2 separate regions of the Homo sapiens genome follow, and region 1 is linked to region 2. The links come from fine-mapping of genetic effects on gene expression. Tissue or cell type: monocytes. Region 2 holds a variant in brackets; the other region holds the start of a gene. All regions are shown on one strand. Distances are from middle to middle.

Region 1 (8,106 bases), 230 kb before region 2:
GCCTCAGCCTCCTGAGGAGCTGGGATTATAGGCATGTGCCACCACGCATGGCTAATTTTGTATTTTTAATAGAGACAAGGTTTCTCCATGTTGGTCAGGTTGGTCTTGAACTCCGAACCTCAGGTGATCCGCCCGCCTCGGCCTCCCTAAACCCTGGGATTACAGGCGTGAGCCACCACGCCCAGCCAACTTTGGCTCTTAACCAGTATTCTACACTGCCTCTCACTGAACACCAAAAATATCCTGAAGTCTCACACAGACTCCAGCACAATTCCTTACCCAAACATGACAAACAAATGTTTAAATGACCAACTAAATGAGTGGATGATTTAATTCATTAAAAAGTAAGATTATCTTACCTAAAATACCTCTAAAAAGGCGTTTATCTAATTGTATAATCCTCTAAGAAAGGTTTTAACAGTGGGCAGTTTGCATACTAATAAGAGATTTAAGCAATGCTCATTTCTTTACCCACAAATAATTCATCTGCTTAACAAATACTAAAGTGAAAAACTGTTTTTGTGTGAGAGTATTAAATTGGAAGATAAAAAGTGAAATGAAATTTGTTCCTGCAAGATCCTATTCCACTAAATTAAAACCCACATAAGTTTTAAATCAGTCACCAAAACCAAAATAAATGTGTAACACTTCCCTTTCTTCTGGTAGAGAAAAAAGAAGTAACATTAACTGAGCACCTACAATGTGCCAGTTCTTGACCCTCAACATATAGCCTCACTTAATCCCTTACAGCCAAGTAAACTAGGCAGCATCTCCATTTTCTTTTCTTTTCTTTTTTTTTTTTTTTTGAGACATAATCTTGCTCTGTCACCCAGGATGGAGTACAGCTGCTCGATCATGGCTCACTGCAGCCTCAACCTTCCAGGCTCAAGCAATCCTCCCACCTCAGCATCCGATTAGCTGGGACTACAGGCGTGTACCACCATGCTCAGCTAATTTTTGTATTTTCTGTAGACACAGAGTTTTGCCATGTTGCCCAGGATGGTCTCGAACTCCTGGGCTCAAGTGATTCTCTCACCTCGGCTTCCCAAAGTGCTGGGACTACAGGTGTGAGCCTCCGAGCCCAGCCAGGATCTCCATTTTCTGATTACAACTGAAGCTTAAAGAAATTAAGCACTTGTCTCAGGTCACTTAGCTAGTTACCGAATTTCCAGAATTAGAATCCAAGTCTGTCTGACCCAAAGTCTATGTTCTCTCCAAAAAGAGGTTAAAAGTACTATTATTTCATTACTTACCAAGACAGAGAATGGGTTTCTTCCCAAAGGAGACTGAAAACACTGCTTATTTTAACAACAAAAACATATTATCTCAGTTAATCCTCGCTATAGCTTATTAACTATTATTTTTATCCATTATAAATGATGAAACTAGAACTCAGAGACGTATTCATAGCTTGCCCAAGAACACACTGCTAGGAGGCAGCAGAACTACCCCAGGTCTGCACCAGCTGCACACACTAACCACAGAAAATGCAGAAAGACCTCAGCCATGTAGTACAAGCTTAAGGTCCATCCAAAGTATTAAAATAATCAGACCTTGTGCTTCTTGGGTAAAAAGGAACGGTATATATTATGTATGCCAATTCCCACTATCAATGATGAGGAGGTTGACTTTCTAGTAATATCCTATCTATCGAATGGCAACCTGAAGATCGGTAGCTAAATTTCAAGCCTATACTGGCCATTCTACTACACCAAATAATCTGGATTTGTTGCCAGTTAAAATTATTCTTAAAGTAGCAAACAACAGTACTATATTACAAAGCAAAGGTTTATGAAGAACAGTATGCTAAAATACGTAAGATAGGCCTGGCATGGTGGCTCATGCCTGTAATCCCAGCACTTTAAGTAGCTAAGGTGAGAGGACCACTTGAGTTCAAGAGTTCAAGACCAGCCTAGACAACATAGGGAGACCTCTTCTTCTACAAATAATAAAAAAATCAGCCGGGTATGGTGGCGCGAGCCTGTGGTCACAGCTACTCAGGAGGCTGAGGGGAGAGGATCACTTGAGCCCTGGAGGTAGAGGCTGCAGTGAGCTGTCATCGTGTCAGTGCACTCCTGCCTGGGGGACAGGGAGAAACCCCGTCTCAAAAAAATAAACTGGATAAACACTTAAGTGTTTGAAATACTTTCACGAATACTTTCACAGGAACAGATGAATAGAAATCACTTAGCAACATTTTCAAGGCAACATCTGAAAACTACTTTGTCTATTTCCTGACGTATGTTAGGGCCTAAGTGAACCAAAAGAGATGTCTACAATGCCAGTTCTGAAAATGTTACCACTTTGGTCAGACAAGTGTTTAGTCTTACTGTATAGTTCTGTTTATCAGAAACCCAGAGTAGCCTTTTCTACTGAGACTGGCACAGGTATATATTCCGAAGGAACTGTCCCATGTGTTTTTGATAAACCAAAGTGACGAATGAGAGGGTGGTTGAGTGTTAACATGCAACATAAAAGGATGGTTGTCATTATTCACTTTTTAACAAAAACTAGTGGCATGGTACAAACCCAAATCCAGAAAAAAACAGAATCACTCCATTGCAAAGTAACCAGGTAGAGACTTCCATGTTTGTTCATCCTACAACACGACTGTCATCTTTTAACCTCATGAAAACTACCCGAGTTCTTCAGCAAACTGTGCCGCTGCCGCATACAGACATCACTGTGGATCACTAAAAATCAGAATGCATCAAGAATTGCTTCCAAGCCTTAACTAGCACTAGCTCAGCTACAAACTCGGAGGTAAACAAGCACAGACTGACTGACTGTGGAGCGGGGCACTGTTTACTTACATGGGAAGACACTCATGTTGTGATGGGAAACGTGTTGCACTGTCCACCCCTAGCTCCTAGAAAAACGGTACTTTGACAAGCTAATGTGAGTGTAAGTCTATTCCCAAAAGTTTTTACCTCTCTTCTTAATCGCTTAAGGACAAATGCTCAAAAAAGGACGCCCGACACAAGGTGCCCGAGGTGCTACCCATGGCATTACCTGGAAGGACATCACTATGCCCATGAAACTGTCCCCTCACAGTGGACTAAAAGGAAGCAATAGATACCGTCATTCACCCTGGCGAAGGAAAAAGAAATCAAAACCAGACGCGCTTCCACCTGGCCCCAAGAGGCTTGGAGCAAGACTAGGGTCTAAGCTGCGGTTCAAAAACCACACCAGGCCCCTCCGCCTCTGCTCTCAAACGCAGCGCGGCGACACAGCAGAACCATCAACACCTCCACCTCTGTCCTCCAGGCACAGCCAGGGACTGCGTCCCAGAGCCCGCCCCGGTCGGGCCCGCCCCGCTATCTCCTCCCCCGTTATCCGCTCGCAGCCGCGCTCAGGCCTGGATTCGCCTCCCCACCCTCCCCAACTTCGGCACGTCCCACTACCCCACACACGTCGGCCGCCGCCCTCGGCGAGTCCGGGGAAGAAAGGCTGGAGGGCCGCAGGGCAAGGAATCCACTCAGCACGGTTCCTCACCTCTGGGTGGAGAAGGGGCACACAGCCCGCTTCGGTATCGTACTCATCCGGGCCGTCCGCCATCTTGGTGTTAAATCCCTCCTCCCGCTGCATGCTGGGAGAAAGCGTTTCACCCTCCCGGGGCTCGGGCGAGGCGGAGGGCGAGCGCGGGGCGAGCGCGAGCCCCGCCGGAGGCGACGCGGGCCTCCTCCTCCTTCTTCTCCTGCCCCCGTGACGCCCCCTCTGTCCCCTCCCCCCTCGGAGGGCGCGGGTTTCTCCGCGCGTGCGCGGAAGCGCGGCCCGGCCCCAGACTGGATCGCGCTCTGCTGCACTGCGCTGGGGACGGCGGAGGGCTCTGGGCGTGGGCCCCGCGGCTCGGGGGCGGGTCCCGGCTGGAGGTAGATGTGAAGCTCTGGCTGCCCGGGGGAGGCGGCCGGGCGGTTGAGACAGTCGCTTGGGAAACCTAGCAGCTGCTCAGGAGCGAGAACAGAGCTCCGGAGCCGCACGCAGCACAAGTCTGGAGCCCCAGGCAGCCGAGGAGCCCACGCCCACGCGCTCCCACTTCCGCTCCGGGACCCCCGGGACCCCTCTTCAGGAACTCGGGCAGAGTCGTCAGCCAGCTCCAGGGAGGTTTGGGCCCGTCAGGCTTGAGTCGAGACCTGCATCATTCCTGAAGACAAAAGCAGCTTCCCTTTCCTCCACACTTGAAAAGGTCACCCGCAACCTGTCCCTCCGGGGGACGCCCGGAAAAACATGGATACAACTCGGGACTTCCTACTAGAGAACCCTTTTTTTTTTTTTTTTTTTTTTTTTTTTTTTTTTAATGAGACAGAGTTTTGCTCTTGCCGCCCAGGCGGGAGTGCAATGGCGCGATCTCAGCTCACTGCAACCTCTGCCTCCCGGTTCAAGCGATTCTCCTGCCTCAGCCTCCCGAGTAGCTGGAATTACAGGTGCACGCCACCACGCCCGGCTAATTTTTGTATTTTTAGTAGAGACGGGTTTTCACCATGTTGGCCAGGCTAGTCTCGAACTCCTGACCTTAAGCGATCCGCCCGCCTCGGCCTCCCAAAGTGCTGGGATTACAGGCTTGAGTCACCACACCCTGCCGAGAACTCTTTTTAAAATGATCCCAACCTGCTCTCAATCGTCTTGAATTAGTACCACACAAAAAATTTACGAGCTCAAAGCCCACACACCGCCATCTGCAACATTTCGATATAATCCAGGAATTCAGAACTGAAGCCACTTAAACTGAATTCGCTTAAATGCAAGGCAGATAAAATGACTAAAGCCATTTTTTAAAGGATTTTAGGGCGGTATGGGGGAGGTGCTCCCTGTAAATGGGCTGATGGGACAGTTTTAGATAGCATTTGTCTTTCCTTTTAGCTGTTAAAAATTGTAAGTCTAAACAGCTGAGAATTTAGCAGAGATCATGAAAGTTGACCTATTAGAGATCCTGGTACTTACTAATCTGTCTCCTGTTAGGCCAGAAACCACCAGGAAAAAGCCTGTACTCCGATAACGTCAGGCCAATTTGTAAATCAGGAGGGAGGGCACTCCAAAGGAAGCTTGGAATGCCACTGGAAAAGGAAAGAGGAAGCCTCCTTTGTAAGATTAGTTTCCCGCCAAAGGAGTCTGAGGAGGGTCTAAGGAGAGCCAGAATCAGTTCTGCATGGGACGCCGTTTCCGTGGCGGCATGAAGAAAAGCTGGGATTTACGAGGGATTGGATGCTGTCTTGAGGATACAGCAATTTAGTAATTAGGTACCTCCAGTAATAAAGTAGCAACACTAGTAAGAGCAGCAGTTACTCAAAGAGGGGTGAATATGGCGTGTCATAGCTACTGCACGGCTGTGGGAGAAAGAAGTTTCTCAGTTAACTTTGCTGCTGGCTTTTTCTGTATCTGTCCTCCCAGCACAACTACTTTTTCTCATTTCAGTCCGAGCTGATTTTCATTCTGTTCGTCCTGGCCCAAACTAGGAGTCATCTTTTACAGCTAGATAGTCTCAGGGTCGGCCCTTGGAGCATCGAATTGTTTTCAGTCATATGTTAACATGGACATAAGTCATTTTCACTCAAAAATCTCAATTTTTTTTTTTTTTTTGAGACTGAGTTTCACTCATGCCCAGGCTGGAGTGCAATGGCTCGATCTCGGCTCACTGCAACCACCACCTCCCAGGTTCAAGCGATTCTCCTGCCTCAGCCTCCCAAGTAGCTGGGATTACAGACATGCGCCACCATGCCCGGCTAATTTTGTATTTTTAGTAGAGACAGGGTTTCTCCATGTTGGTCAGGATGGTCTGGAACTGCCGGCCTCAGGTGATCCACCCGCGTCTGCCTCCTAAATTGCTAGGATTACAGGCGTGAGCCACCGCACCCAGCCAAAAATCTCAATTTTTTTTTTTTTTTTTTTTTTGAGACGGAGTCTTTCTTGCTCTGCGGCCCAGGCTGGAGTGCAGTGGCGAGATCTCAGGTCACTGCAACCTCTGCCTCCCAGATTCAAGCGATTCTCCTGCCTCAGCCTCCTGAGTAGCTGGGATTAAGGGCGCGCCACCATGCCCTGCTAATTTTTGTATTTTTAGTAGGGATGGGGTTTCACCATGTTGGTCAGGCTGGTCTCGAACTCCTGACCTCGTGATCCACCCACCTCGGCCTCCCAAAATCTTGGGATTACAGGCGTGAGCCACTGCGCCCGGCCAAAAATCTCAATTTTGAATCTTGCCCTTCCTTACCTTTATGTCTTGCATTGACTAGAAATAGAAGATTAGAGTAAATAAAGGACACCGACTGAAAAAGTTAAGTGGCATAAATATTAATAAAGCATTGAATGAAGTGAGAGTGTAAAGAAACTAGGCATGGAAAACTGGAGAAAATGTTTCAGGTACCCATGTATTAGGAATATTGGTACAGGTATATGATGTGGAGTATTCATAAAAGAAATGTTTAGCCTTCCCTGCGAAAATCAGTAAATCAGAGTTCACTTTAAAATCTAGAGTTCTAGTTCATCTGGCAAACAAGCCATCTTGACCTTCTTGCTCAGTCTCTACCAGGTCTATGGCCTGCTTTACTCGTTCTCATTACCTGCCTGGCTCTGTGGATATTTTTACTCCTGAGAATTCCACAATTCAAATATAAGGAAAATACTAAAAGCAGCCGAAAAGTTGGAACAACATAACCAGGGTCCATGTCTGTCTTGCTTACTGCTGGAGCACTAAAATAAATAGTTATTAAATGAAGAACTGAAGAAAGAGATCAAGAGCAGAAGCAGGCATGCTTAGGAAAACATGTTGAAGTTGAATCTTGAAGCAAACCCTTTAGATATGATCAGAGTCCATCTTGATAACTGTAGAGTTCTTATCTATAGCTCAAATTGAGAAAATATATTCAGGGGACTAAGGAGACAGCTAAGAAAGTACACTGATTGGATAGACTGGCAAAAGAATGGCATAGAATTATGGAGGAATGCAGAATAGTGGCTAAAAAAGAATAAAATTCAAAGAGAAAAATAGACCTTGTTAGAGAATAATTGTGAAATGGATTTAGAAGCAAACAGATTGGAAGGCATGGGGCATTGTTGTATAAATATAGTTTCATATGTAACTTCAGACACTACTGGAGCTAAAGACAGCATAGAGATTATCCAGATTTAGTCATTTCACAAAAAAGGAAATGATGGGGAATTTAAGAAACTCTCTTAAAGTTACAAAACTAGGTGGTAGCAGAATCATCTGGAAGCCTCCTGAATTTTCCCCATCTACTACTCTTTGCCTCTACCACGTTTCTTCTGTTGTTATTATCCTCAATGAATTATTACTTGGTCCATTTAATTTTTTTTATTGTGGGCCGGGCACGGTGGCTCACGCCTGTAATCCCAGCACTTTGGGAGGCCGAGGCGGGTGGATCACGAGGTCAGGAGATCGAGACCATCCTAGCTAACACGGTGAAACCCCATGTCTACTAAAAATACAAAAAATTAGCCGGGCATGGTGGCTGGCGCCTGTAGTCCCAGCTACTCGGGAGGCTGAGGCAGGAGAACGGCGTGAACCCGGGAGCGGCATGTGCAGTGAGCTGAGATCACGCCACTGCATTCCAGCCTGGGCGACAGAGCAAGACTCTGTCTTAAAAAAAAAAAAAAAAAAAAAAAAAAGGTTTTTTTGTGGTGAGAACACCTGACGCAAGATCTCTCTTAAATTTCTTTTTTTTTTTTTTTTTGAGACGGAGTCTTGCTCTGTCGCCCAGGCTAAAGTGCAGTGGTGCGACCTCGGCTCACTGCCAGCTCCGTCTCCCAGGTTCACGCCATTCTCCTGCCTCAGCCTCCCGAGTAGCTGGGACTACAGGCGCCCGCCACCACACCCGGCTAATTTTTTGTATTTTTAGTAGAGACAGGGTTTCACCGTTACCCAGGATGGTCTCGATCTCCTGACCTCGTGATCCACCCGCCTCGGCCTCCCAAAGTGCTGGGATTACAGGCGTGAGCCACGGTGCCCGGCCGATCTCTCTTAAATTTTTAAGTGCACAATAGGGTATTGTTAACCATAGGCACAATGGTGTACAGCAGATTTCTAGACCTTATTCGTCTTATATAACTGAAACTTTATACCCATTGAACAGCACCTCCCCATATCCTTCTACC
Region 2 (8,109 bases):
CAGACTACTTTTTTAGGGGATGTGGGATGTGTATGGGTCTATGTTTGGTTGTACCCGTTGACTGCTCATGGGAAGTTAGACAAATGGCACTTACGGCCTGCTCAGCATTCTTTGAGGGATCGTGCTATCTTCTTGTATAAGTGTCTTAGAAAAGCCGGAGCACTAGGGATAGTAGCCATTGGTATGAGACCAGGAGCTGTGCTCTTCACTCTTCGGCTTTTTATCGTGAGATTATTTGCTAACTAAAGTTTTCATGAAAAATCTTAGGAGGGAAAAGCAGTCTTTGAAGAGTGTTTGGGTAAAGGTGTTCATTTTTTGAATTAACATTGCTACATTATTAATATTACGTTGATTGAAAGATGGCTTTTGTTTTCTTGCTTTCAGTGTCTTAAGTTGCTGATGTTATTTTGTTTTAGTTTTTCATTTGTATTTCCTTTTATTTTTATCTGTTTTTATCTTTGTCCATAGTCTTCTTAGTACATTGACATTTTGTACACTCTTATTCTTAAACTTTGGCATTTATTTTTCTAATATTTTCTTGTTACCTTTACATATGTTTAAATTTCTTTGCCCTTTTTGACTTTTTGCTTAAACACTTAAAAATTTTACTTATTTTTTCTGCATAGGGTTTTATTAAAACAGAGACATAAATACGCATAGAGAAGAATATTGAGAAAATGAATGACTCCAACAATGGCTTCCCTAGGCAGAGCTTTAATTTAAATTTACTTTTAAAAAAGTTGATATCTGTCTTTTTTTTTTCTCTGTGTGGCTGTTGGGTGGCATGGTTTTAAGGTAGGTGGTTCAAAATATACTTCCTACCCTAAGTAAGAGATTCAGGATACTTACCCTCCCCCTCCCCCCCCCCAGTTATTTAATAGCAGGCTCTTAGGACTTCTCATTCCTTTTTTATTCCTTTCAATTTTGAACTTCATCCTCGAAGTTCTAATCTTTTTTCTTTTTTTCTTTTTTTTTGAGATGGAGTCTTGGTGTGTCACCCAGGCTGGAGTGCAGTGTTGTGATCTTGGCTCACTGCAGCCTCTGCCTCCCAGGTTCAGCCTCCTGCCTCAGCCTCCCGAGTAGCTGGGACTACAGACATGTGCCACCACAGCCGGCTAATGTTTGTATTTTTAGTAGAGATGGGATTTCACCGTGTTGGCCAGGCTGGTCTCAAACTCCTGACCTCTAGTGATCTGCCTGCCTTGGCCTCCCAAAGTGCTGGGATTACAGGTGTGAGCCACTGCACTGGGTCTCAAAGTTCTGAATAATATAGATGTCCCATAGACAAATTTCTTACCTTTAAATAAGTTTGTTTACAATGATAAAGCCTTTGAACTATACTTAAAGGGCTTGCTCTCATGTTGCCTGTCATCCCTTTAATCATTCTTACAGGTGTTTGATTTAAAATATTTCATAATCCTCATTTAAAAATAATCTATAGCTGTGTCACATTCCTAAAATCTTCTTTCAACAAAAAAACAAAAGTTAGTGACAGGTCTTGACTAGTGTTTTATTGCTAATCTTATTATTAAGAATTGTTTTCCAATTTGTGTTTCTTAAAATAGGAATAAATATATACTTTTAGTGAATATATAGTTAGTGGTTTAAAAAGTATTTAATAGTGTAAAATACTATCATGAAAAGAAAAATTATTCATGATTCTGAGCAATATAACACATCAAATTTTTATGTGTTTGTAAATATTTTAGTGACTACATTGATGTATAATATATGGGTTCAAAAAGCAAAAGTCGTTAAGGTTATTCTTTAACCTCTACATTCTCTACTCTGAGTCAAGGTCTCTAATTGGTATGGCCTTGATGTAGATGGAGCAGATAAAACCTTGTTAGTTAGCTGACTGCCACTATATAACAGCCTTTCTCAATAAAGAGACTTAAATTAATTTAACCCTGTAACTTTGTTGTCCTCAGCAATCTCCATTGGTGCTACTGCGTTTAAAGGTCAGTATTACTGTCTTTATTTATTTTATTTTATTTATTTATTTTTTAGACATGGAGTCTTGCTCTGTTGCCCAGGCTGGAGTGCAGTGGCACGATCTCAGCTCACTGCAACCTCTGCTTCCTGGGATCAAGTGATTCTCATGCCTCAGCCTCCTGAGTAGCTGGGATTACAGGCACCCACCACCATGCCCAGCTAATTTTTCTATCTTTAGTGGAGACGGGGTTTTACCATGTTAACCAGGCTGGTCTTGAACTCCTGACCTTAAGTTATCCACCTGCCTCAGCCTCCCAAAGTGTTGGGATTACAGGTGTGAGCCACCGTGCCTGGCCTGTTGTCCTTTAATATTTTATTTCTCATTGTGAATCTCTCTCATCGTACATTTCTGTAGATTTCTCTCATTCAGAGAACTTAATTTGCTCAAGTTATTACTATAACTATTATCTTTGTTATCTCTTCTCAGTGATAAGACATTGAAAATAATACTTTTCTGTATATGAAACACTGTTCTATAAGCAAAATCTTAAGATTTAAGTTAGTTTGCACATCATAACAGTGGTAACCCTGCATTCTTTAATTAAACACGTTTAAATGTATAAATGTAAAAACAGTTTAAAGTTATAAATGCCCAGGAATCCTGATCTTGGTCATACTATGTCTGTTGAAATACAATTTTAGTGTCTTGATACCTTTTAAGTAGTATGCTATGAAATAATTCTTGTTGTAGCTGATTAGTTACTTGGGCAGATTTTCTTGTATCTTATTTTCCAAATACCAGTCATTTATAGAAATCAGACTTTGCAAAATGTAAAGGCTTTCATAGTTTCAGAAGCACAGGGACAGCTGCACAGCAAGTCCATATGTTGCTTAGCTATAATTATATTTTAATAATTATAATTTTTTTTTCTTTTGGGAAGAACTGTGGCTAACCTCCAAGAGACTGAAGCTGGTAATTGTAAGCATTCTCATTTTTTAAACACAAAGATAGAACTTTTTATTTTTCTCTGTTTTAAATGGTTGAATATATTTATCATGTATCATAGCATCCACTGGATGAAGTTACATTTCTGGGTCCTACTGTAACATTTAAATGAGTGTTCGCGTCAGATGGGAAGATTACTCGTTTTTTTTTTTTTTTTTTTGATACTCCTATATATGGATTTGCTGCCACAGGCATGCTAATTTTGCCATCTCATACATATGACTTGCTCCTTTCCGCCTCCGTTCTTCTGCACATTACCATTCCCTCCACCTGTAGGTCTCTCCTTCCTTTCCACCCATTTCCTTTTCTCTTTTCAAAAGTGGCATCTTAAGATAATTTCCTCTAGAAATTCTTTCAGGATTTATTCCATGTTACTTTTACTTATTTTCTTTGCTTCACCTTAACACTTACCATGGGTAGATACAAATTCAACTAATATGAATTGTGTTGCTGTAATTTACCAGCATACATAGTGTTAAGTAGTACAGTGATAAGATTAACTATCTCATCTATTTTTTACAGCTATCCTGTGAGTTATTCCCATTTTTACAGACAAAATTAATTATCTCAGTTACACTCTTGGTTTTAGTTGGGCTTGATTTTTTTTTTGGTATTTTTAGTATTTAATATTTAGTATTTTAGTATTTAGTATTTGGTATTTTTAGTTTCACCATGTTGGCCAGGCAGGTCTCTAACTTTTGACCTCAGGTGATCTGCCCGACTCGCCTTCCCAAAGCGCTAGGATTACAAGTGTGAGCCACCACACC[A/C]GGCCTAGTTGTGCTAGATTTTTTACATTTTTTCTGATTTTAAACATTGTTACTTAAACAGCATCATTTTGCCTTTCGCTACTTCTGTAGTCTTTCCTGCTTTCCACCTCACACCCCCCCAATATCACTTAAAAAAAATACTAAAAAAAACCCAAACTACTTTATTCAGGTATAATTTACACCTGAATAAAATGAAACCATTTTAAGTACATAGTTTGATTCATTTTGACAGATGTATACACCCATGTTACTGCTACCACAATAGATACAGATATAGAACTTTCCATCAGTCCCCAAAATTCTCTTGTGCCCTTTGAACTTAATCTTTCCCTTTCCTACTCTATGTCAGACAATGACTGATTCGGGTTCTGTTACTGTGGATTGCTTTTGTCTGTTCTAAGATTTCATATGAACGGAATCATAGAGTATGTACTCTTGTCTGGTTTATTTTGCCCTGCATATTTTTGAGATTATTCCTTTTTATTTTGGGATAGTATTCCATGGTATAGGAATACTATTACAGTATTGTAATGAATATCCAATTTGTTTATCCATTCACCTTTTGATAGACATTTGACTTGTTTGTAATTTTCGGTTATTGTAAATGAAGCTACTGTGAACATCCATGTACAAATTTTTGAGTGGACATGTTTCCATTTTTCTTTGGTAAATACTTAAGAGTAGCTGTACCATTTTGCATCTCACCAGCAATGTATGAGAGTTCCAGTTGCTCCCCTTCTCATCAACACTTACATTTTCAGTTAAAAAAATTTAATTAACATTCTAGTGGTTGTGTAATAGTATCTCATTGTGGTTTTTCATTTGCGTTTCGCTGATGACTGTGGTAGTAAGCATCTTTTCTTGGATTTATTAGCCATTTGTATTTTTTTTTGTAAATTGTTTAAATCTTTTATTCATTTAAAAAATTGTTTTCTTATTGATTTCTTATTGAAGGTTCTTTATATAGTCAGAATCTGAGTCATTTGTCTAATATATGTGTTGTGCATATTTTCTAACAGTTTATGTCTTGCCTTTTTTAAAAACTTTTTAAAGAGAAGTAATTTAATTTTTTGAAATTTAGCATATCTGTTTTCTTTCATGGTTTATATTTTTTGCATATCTTAAGAATTTTTTTGTCTACAAATTTTTATTTTCCCATTTTTATTCTAGAAGTTTTATAATGTTGGCTTTTGTATTTAGATTTGTGATTCATTTTGAGTTAATTTTTGTTTAGTATAAAAGCCAGGCTGTTTTGGTTGTTCTTGTTGTTTTTAATGAATATCCAGTTTTTACTGAAAGTATTTTCTTTTTCCCAGTGGGTTTCCTTGGCAGTTTTGTTGAAAATTAATTGACTCTGTTTATGGGTCCATTTCTAGACTCCTTATTCTATTCCATTGATATATGTGCGGTATGCTAGTACCACATTATTTTGAATGTTTTTGTAAGTTTTGAAGGTAGTGTAAATCTTCCAAACCAACATCATCTCGAAAATAGTAAAAAAACTTTGCATAGTTTACTCTCTTGACCTCATTGCTTGTGTGTATGTGTTGCTGATTTTTGTTTTTCATTTGTTTCTTTTTGTGAGTTTCTGCTTTCCAAGATGTTGCCACCACCAGGGACTTCCTGCTTGTTATTTTCCAATGCAGATATTGTATATATTAAGGAAGAAGCAAAGTACTTTCAGCTAGTCGGAAGGAATTAGACAGCAATTGGTATTCTTCTTTAGCCCGTTATTGGTAGTAAGCAACTCTAGATTCCAATAGTATATGATTTTTGACAAGGTCAGTAAATTGGGGTTGCAGCAACAAAAGTGTGTACCAGAAGCCCTGTGTTTAAATACCACGTCTGATACTTGACAGGAAATGAAATTGTAACACTTTTCAATTTAAAATTGTGTTTCTTTTCCTTCTTCGCCCATTCTTTAACAGAAACATTCCTATCCTTGCCTGAAGCAGTCTTTTGCAGGAACATTTGAGGTACTGTAATGGCAGTTGCCAAACTATAGTGTGTGTTAATTGGGAACATGTTGAATTGAAGAAAAATGTTAGATAAAAATTGCATTTAATTTTGTTTCTGACTACATATAAATGGACATTTAAAAAATCTCATTAATGAATACAGTTCCTGGTTTCAAAATAGCACTCAGGTATTTTCCCCTTCTTAAACCACTTTAGTTTACAGTAAAAATATTAGGAGAAAAGGTAAAATGTAGCATATTCAATTATAATATTGATTATATATGAATGTTTTATTTCACGTGTATTTTTGGTCTTTCCGATTAAATCGTGTGCTTTCCTAGATAGAGATTTTATCTTCTGTTTATTTTGCCTCATTTCTCACCTACTGGAAATGACTATAGATGTTGGTTATGCATTTGAATTAACTTGTTTTGATGAATAGTAAGTCCCAGGCTATAGTAGGAATATAGATGTATTTTTTTTCCTACTGAAATCACATTTGTCCTTTGAAAGACATTTCTAAGCTTTGCACTTGATAACAGCTTAGAATTTTGGAAAACCGGTAGGTAATGAGGTGGAGATGAGGTTAATAATCTCATTTCTGAGCGCTTGAGTTTCTCGCCTTTAAGTTGTTGATATAGACTGATCGTTGTTAAGTGCTTTTGGAGGGCTGGTCATCACTTGTTTGTGTCTGCTCCTGTGTTTGCCTCATAAAGACTTCAGTGGATTGCAAGATCAGTCAGACAAATGGAAACATCAGTCAGCTGCTCAAATAGATATTTTTAGAAATGTTTTTCTTCTTAGTCCTAATCATGAAGTTTACCGCAAATCCTTCATTTGATAGTGGGTAAGAGGAAATGAAGCAGGAGCTCCAGAGAAGGCACCTTGAGTAGTAGGATCCAAATGAAAATTGAAGAAGAGATTACATTCCTGAGTAAACATTTTTTTCTCCTTATGATTATTATCAAAACCTGGTCTTAAAAAAAACCTGGTTCTTGCATATGGTTATAGGATAGGTCTTATGTAATGGAGTTTAAAAACCTAGCAAGAAACACATAAATGAATACTATGCTATTGTATTTTTTTCTTATGATAGGATATATGGTGTTTTAAAATGTTCTATGTCTGACATTGATTTTACTTTTGTAAATTCATTTAAAAATATTTTGAAGTTAATTTTTATTTTATTTCCTTATTCAAAGGTAGACTATTTTGGTTACAAATGTGTTAAATAGTACCTATATCAATTTAGGGTTTTTCGGTTCAAGTAATAGAAAGGTTTGGGTAACTTAAATGATTTACTAGGATGATAAGCTCATTTTCTTCCAAGATGAAAAATGGAGTTTTAGAAATAGTAGACATTTGAACAGCTTTAGGGATCTAGAGAGCAGAAAGCAACAATCTTTGTGGAGCCCCCATTAGGATAGTTTTTTTTGTGATTGTTTTTCATTCACGTGATCACTCTGCTTGTGATTCACATTTATCAGAGAGAGAGAGACAGGCATGGACTGATTGGTCTGGCTCTTTTTTTTTTTGTCCACTCCTTTTGCTAGGAGAGCGTGGAGTACCAAGATTGCATATGTTGGAGGAGGGATGTTCCTTTCCCAAAAGAAGATCAAGGTGGATGTTAACAGAGGAAGGGGAAATGGGTCCGGACAGGTTAAAACAAAAATCCAATACTGCCGTAGTTTCTAGGTGGATATAACATTTTTAGAAATCTTATAATACAATATTAACTTCATTGGCTGAACCCAAGCCTTTCAGCCTTTATAGATTTGCCATGATCCTAATACATATAAGCATTCATTGTATTCATTATTAATTACTTCATAGATTCAGTGTGTGACGAAGGGAGATGATTTTTAACAAATAATAAAGTGAAATGATCTAGTTTTGCTATGTTGTTTGAGCAACATCAAATAGTTTTGCTTAAAATAGATAATTTATAGTGATTTTTTTTCACTATGGTATTTTCTTAAATATATTAAGTGCTTTTCATTTTCTGATACCACCTAGTTTAATTGGGGGTGAATATCAGAGAAATTAGAATGTTATTTCAGCTGAAGGAGTACAGTTTTTTTTTCTCTTCTTAGAGAATATAGTGCCTCAGATACAGTCCACAACAAAAATTTTTGTTTAGAAAAGAAAAATTTTAAGGAACAGATTTGTCAATTTCTGTGTATTTTTTGGTCAGTTTTTTTTTTTTTTTTTTTTTGAGAAGGAGTCTTGCTCTCTTGCCCAGGCTGGAGTGCAGTGGCGCGATCTCGGCTCACTGCAAGCTCCGCCTCCTGGGTTCACGCCATTCTCCTGCCTCAGCCGCCTGAGTAGCTGGGACTACAGGTGCCCACCACCATGCCTGGCTAATTTTTTGTATATTTAGTAGAGATGGGGTTTCACCGTGTTAGCCAGGATGGTCTCGATCTCCTGACCTCGTGATCTGCCT

The links. PIP is the estimated chance that this variant, and not a neighbour inherited with it, causes the effect.
Region 1: ZDHHC17 starts here. The variant in region 2 is fine-mapped to the expression of ZDHHC17 in monocytes (TOPMed, PIP 0.96). The same link has a PIP of 0.9 or more in whole blood.

Annotation. Positions count from the first base shown.
Region 1 is chr12:76,759,719-76,767,824 of GRCh38, reverse strand. ZDHHC17 (zDHHC palmitoyltransferase 17) reads right to left here and starts at 3,710. Exons shown (of 17, transcript NM_015336.4): 1 at 3,496-3,710. The coding sequence starts at 3,588. RefSeq lists enhancers at 3,363-3,512, 2,704-3,546, 3,522-3,816, 4,113-4,212 and a silencer at 3,563-3,972.
Region 2 is chr12:76,531,809-76,539,917 of GRCh38, reverse strand. The region is part of intron 1 of OSBPL8 (oxysterol binding protein like 8); the gene reads left to right. Among named protein-coding and RNA genes, the nearest start is that of OSBPL8, 24 kb to the left of the region's middle. The variant A/C (reference allele first, on the strand shown) is at 3,709.